Linked DNA regions of Homo sapiens: region 2 is linked to region 1. The links come from fine-mapping of genetic effects on gene expression. A gene starts in region 1. The other region holds a variant in brackets. All regions are shown on one strand. Distances are between the middles of the regions.

Region 1 (2,779 bases):
CCGGAGAGGGATCTTGACCCGGAGGTAGCGGTCCACAGCAATTGCCAGCAGGGCCAGGATGGAGCTCTGGGTGAGGATGAGGACCGGACAGGCAACCATGAGGCAGGTGTGGAAGTAGGTCTGTGGCCCAATGTTGATGAGGATGGCGAGGGGGATGACCAGGGCACCCACGGCCACATCAGCCACCGCCAGCGACACGATGAAGCAGAAGGTGGCATCCCGCAGCGCCTGGTTCACCTTCACCGCCCAGATCACCAGCACGTTCCCGGGCACAGAGACCAGGGCGATGAGCACCTCGATGCCGATGTAGGCGGCCTGGAAAGCTGAGATGGAGGGCGGCATGGCGGGCACAGGCTGGGCACATCAGCAGACGGGCACCAAGGGGCACGAGGCAAGCACCTGTGTGGTCAGGGAAGCCTGGGATGGGGAGACCCGTCTGGGAGGGGCAGGGAGCTCAGGCTGCCCTGGAACTCCAGGTACCCTGTGATGTGTCCCACTTGTCACATGCAGCTCCTACCCAGGCTGGAGGGGCACCCGGACCCTTCTCTGCCTAATCTTTGTCCCTTCCCTTTATCATTCCCAGAGGTTCCATTCAGCAACTTAAAATAGCAGCGCTCACTCCTCCACTGGCTTTTTTATCAGGTGTGAGGCAGCTCCCAGCGCGCGCGCACACACAGACACACGCACAGAGGGGTCTCCCATGACTGGCTCTGCCCACCCCTGTGCACAGAACAGGATGCAGGGAGCTCACCATCCTGCCTGCTGGCCGGCAGGGGTCCCAGAGGCAGTGCCCAAAGTTCCAGGGAACAGAGCTCCGGGCCGCGCGCGGTAGGGCTGGGCTGGGCTCTGGACAACGCGCGGCAGCTCATAGTCCTCCGGCTCCCGCCGCAGCGCTCCCAGCCCGGCCTTTCAAGCAATCACATGGTACGGCAGAGACTCAGCCCCGGACGCTTTTAAAGAGGTAGCGCCCCTGTTTCGCACCTGGGACTGGGGTGGCAGACGTGGGTCTGGGGACGGAGCCCAGGACAAGGCTGGGGCGTTTCTCCCTATTCCCCAGCGTGCCCGCACCTGCCCTGCGCCCACCCACTTGAGACCCGTCTGGTGCCTGGATCTTAGCAGTCCTCTGGTCCCGTTCCAGCTCTGTCGGGGAACCTTGCCCATGGCCTGCCCCAAGGGGGCATTCCGGTCTCTTCTTTCAACCCTCTCCTGCACCCCCATTGGGGAGCCCCAGGGGTGAACCGAGACTCAGACTTACCCAAGGTCACCAAAGCTGGCAGAGCTCCCGGCTGCCTGACTGTTCTGTCCAAGTGCCCCCACACCTCGACGCCTTCAGCAGCCGCTAGCTCCAGGGATTCCTGGGGAAGCCAAGGCCGGCCGGTAAGCTCCAGAGGGATGGTAGCTGGCTGGGACTCGACTCGGGCGCCTGCGGCTCTGTCGCCCCCGGCGCAGGAGCTGAGTGACAATCGGGCTCCGCACACCGGGAGGGGGCGGGGGCGGCGGCGGCACCCGCCAGCCCCTCCCTCCTCATCCTCCGTCTCCTCCCCCACCCCCTCCTCTTAACAAAGGAAGTGATACTGGGTGAGAAAAGCTGGAAAAAATGTGAGCTTTTCGAAGGGCCTGGTGTGTGCGCCCAGCCTCAGGACTGGACAGAGGCGCATCCTTCCTGTGTCCACTCTCTCCCTTCTCAATGCAGGACTCCTGGGAGCCCTGGTCTGGCCTCCAGCGACCCCTCACCCCTCACGGCACAGCATCTCTTCTGCAGGACTTCAGAATGCCCCCTCTGGGATCTCCCAAAGCAGTCGGTAGCCCTGGCACCCTCCCCCAATCCTAAAACCCTGCTCTCTCCATGAAACCAGTCCCTGCATCTTCTCATCCCATATTGTTTTGCAGGCTCTACCCTGAGTCATTATATTCCTTTCTCATCCATCTTTCAGAATTGCCTTTTAGTCTATTAGCAATTTCTATTTTGCAGATAAGGATGCTGAGGCTCAGGGAAGTGACCTAGCTTCCCAGGATCTCCTGGCAGTGTAACCCGCTCTGCGCTCCTTTTCCTTCCTCCTTCTTCCTCTTCATAGCACAGCGCTAAGCCATAAGGCATCCAGTCCAATCCCCTCATGTTACAGATAAAGAAGCAGGCTCAGGGAAGCAAGGGACTTCCGGAGGGTCACAGGGCAAATCCTAACAGGACCAAAATAAGAATCCCAGGCTCCTGACTCTCTCCACTGGGTCCAGACCCCTCCCCTGGCCACCTTCTGCCAGTTTCGGTTTAGGCAGTCCACTGATATTAACTAATGACCAGACCCTGGACATGGATGGATGCCTCGCAGAGATCCCAACCTGAGAAATCCTTGTTTGTGGGTATTGGGCAAGGGTTCTAGGAAGGCAAAGAGAGTCAGGCTGGGGACCCCAATGTTAGCTAGCCACAACCCAACCTGGCCTCTGGGGGTACTGCCCCCCTCACTGGATCTCAGAATGCAAGGAAAAGGGTTCTGCCCAGAGGAGGGTGGGCACGTTGCTCCCATTGGGGGCTGCACTGAATCACAGTGAGGAATGATGTGGGACCCGGAACCTGGGTAGCTGGGAGGCAGGGAGGAAGGGCAGTTGAGTCTTCTGAGGAGGAGGGGGAAGCCCTCTGTGGGGAAAAATAACTTCCATTTCTGCCTTTAGGGGGAGCAAGGAATCAGTGCCTCAGACAGCAAAATTACATTCCTTCCCTAGAAGCTAGTTGGAGAAATTAGGAAGTGTAAACTCTCCTTCCTCCTCGTCCCCTTGCACTTCC
Region 2 (2,779 bases), 39 kb after region 1:
CAAAATCAGCAGGGACTAGAAGATGCTGAAGGCCAGAGGGCTGTGACTGGGTGTGCAGCAGAAGGGGTAGTAAGGAGCAGGGAGCAGGTGAAGGGGATTTCTGAGCATTTTGAAATCCAGCCGCTACCATGCAAATGACATCAGCCCAGCGTGCAAATAGACAGAATCAAGTTGAAACAGTCAGGGTTGGGGAGCCAACAATGTGGCCCTGGAGCCCCAGTAGGGGATAAGGGCTTCCTCTGGAGGGCGCAGGACTGCTGGAGGAGGAGGCTACAGTCAGGGCAGGGGGCCCTGTGTGCCCAAGCCAGCAGGGATGGGGATTAGGGCCGGACGCCCTGCTGTCAGGTTGGAGCTGATGGATTGCCGCTGGTGGCGGAGCACAAAGGCTGTTCTGTGCTTGGCACCAATGTGTTCCCATCCATCAGAGGGCAGCTTGTGGGGGTGGAGGGGTGTACAAGGGGAGGAGGACCAAGCCTCTAGATGAGGCGTCTCCACAGCTCGGCTCTGAGAGAAGAACAAGATGGGTACAGGGCCAATCCCCCCCATCAGGGTATGGACAGGTCAAAGACACCTGGGTCACTCTATCAGCTCAGACCAAGAGGGTCTGTGCCCCACATCGGGCTTTGACGTGGTCCCCAAACCACTGTACTCAGACATACACAAACACACACAGAGACAGGGATTCACAGAAACCAGGCACACAAGGTCACCCTAACCTCCCGGCTCTGCCCTCATGTTTGGTCAGAGGCAAACATCATCCAGACACAAGGCCAAATGCATGCCCAACAGAGCTTCTGCAGGCAAGCGCCGAGTCTAGGCACTGCTCTTGCCCCAGGTCAGGTCCCAGCCAGGGAACTGACACAGAGTGGGTTCTCAGTAAATATGTGTTGAGCAGATGAAGGAGTGAATTAATAAATTCCTTCTCTGGATTACGTCAGCACTTTCTCTAGCCTGCTGTTTCTACCTTGGTTAGATGACTTTGTGTACTCATTCTCCTTACTCATCAGTGAACATGCTGAAGGCAGAGAGGGCATGTCTTAGTAACCCCAGCACCTGGCACAAGGTGCTGAATGCACAGTACTTGATAGAAAAAAAAATGAATGAATGAATAAACACATTCGGGGTGGAGCCAGGTTTTCCCTCCTCCATTCC[T/C]GCTGCTGTGGTCCCCTGCAGGGCACACAGAAGTAGAAGAGAAGACAAAGCAAGAAAAGGGAATAACATTTACCAGGTGTATCCATGTGCCAAGTACCCTATCATTTAATACAGCCATTCCCCTATTGCTTGCATACTCGCCATCCTTTGCTAGCCTGAAACATGCACCCTCTCCCAGTCGAATCCATCCTCCTGCCTCTGAAGAGGTTGTTCAGACCTTCATCATCTCATTCCTGGATGACCATCACACTGTTCTGTGCGGTCTCCTTGCCTCAGCTCTCAAGTCCTTCCCTGCCCAGCTGGGCCTCCTCCCCTCTGTGCAAGTTTGTCTCAAATCACCCCCTTACCTGAACCCCAAGCTCCATACAAACAGCCTACCCAACGTCCCCTTCCCCTGCTCCCCTCTCCTCATCTGAATCCTACCAGTTCTCCAAGAGCTGGCCCAGCATGCTCCCCAAGCCTTCTGCAGAGCACCAGTCTTCAGCAGTTTTGGCTTCCCAAAAATTCCCAAAACGCTTTTGAAGAAACTACTGGTTTGCAATTGATTAAAGCCCCCATGTTTGCTGTAGAATCAACATAGCTCTCCCTTGTCTTGTAATCCAGCTTTCACATGTCAACCCATGCTCACCAACTAGACAGTAAGGTCTGGAAACCACCATAGAGCAAGCCAGCTCTGCCTCCATTTTAGAGGAAGAAGACACATTATTTAGAGGTAAGTCACACTGGATCCTGGAATAACAAAAGATGCAAATATGGGGGTTCCTATAGTGGCTTCAACATGACTTCTTTTCTCAGGGCTCATAGGACTGGAGGGTAAACTGAGGCTTTTTTTTTCTTTTTTGTTTGGCAGGGGATGTGTTAGAAATAGAGACTCTTCTTCAGCCCAGCTGGTCAGGGGAAAGCAAAGTTTAGAACCCACACAGTACCTATGCTGCTACTTTTTTTTTTTTTTTTTTTTTTTTTTTTTGAGGCAGAGTCTCGCTGTGTCACCCAGACTGGAGTACAGTGGTGCGAACTCGGCTCACTGCAACCTCCTCCTCCTGAGTTCAAGTAATTCCCTGCCTCAGCCTCCCAAGTAGCTGGGATTACAGTGCCCACCACCATGCCTGGCTAATTTTTGTATTTTTAGTAGAGACAGGGTTTCACCATCTTGGCCAGGCTGGTCTTGAACTCCTGACCTCGTGATCCACCCGCCTTGGCCTCCCAAAGTGCTAGGACTACAGGCATGAGCCACCACGCCCGGCCTATGCTGCTACTTTCTATCATGCTGGTAAGGCCAAGAACAGAATTAAGACCTCACTGCTCTCCCTCAACATGCTTAGGGTTCTTTTGTTGTCCAGCTATGTTCCCTCCTTCCCTCCATTTCCTGTCCCAAAAGGACATCAGAATTCTCCTGGCTCCCTGCTGTGAATAATGAGAGGAAGGAACACTGGTTCTTCACATGCCTCGCAGATCTCATGTTCCCTGTGAAGTCTCCCATGAGTCCCCAGCAGGGTTCCCCTTCCTCTTATTGTCCTTGCCACTGGCTTGAACTTGTCAGTTTGATCTGTCGTAGGATAAGGAGCAGGACATTAGTCTATGGGGAGGAAAAAACTGGGAACAAAGGATAAAAGATAGAGGGAGCAGA

What was found. PIP is the estimated chance that this variant, and not a neighbour inherited with it, causes the effect. A credible set is the group of variants that fine-mapping cannot tell apart.
Region 2: its variant is the best candidate, but not a certain one, in a credible set for the expression of ADORA1 in whole blood (INTERVAL, PIP 0.65).

Annotation. Positions count from the first base shown.
Region 1 is chr1:203,126,405-203,129,183 of GRCh38, reverse strand. ADORA1 (adenosine A1 receptor) reads right to left here and starts at 1,458. Exons shown (of 4, transcript NM_000674.3): 1 at 1,256-1,458; 2 at 752-906; 3 at 2-399. The coding sequence starts at 342. RefSeq lists an enhancer at 754-1,734.
Region 2 is chr1:203,087,422-203,090,200 of GRCh38, reverse strand. MYOPARR (myogenin promoter associated myogenic regulatory antisense long non coding RNA) reads right to left here. Exons shown (of 3, transcript NR_160550.1): 3 at 1,861-2,779. Among named protein-coding and RNA genes, the nearest start is that of MYOG, 2.8 kb to the right of the region's middle. RefSeq lists an enhancer at 2,353-2,779. The variant T/C (reference allele first, on the strand shown) is at 1,153.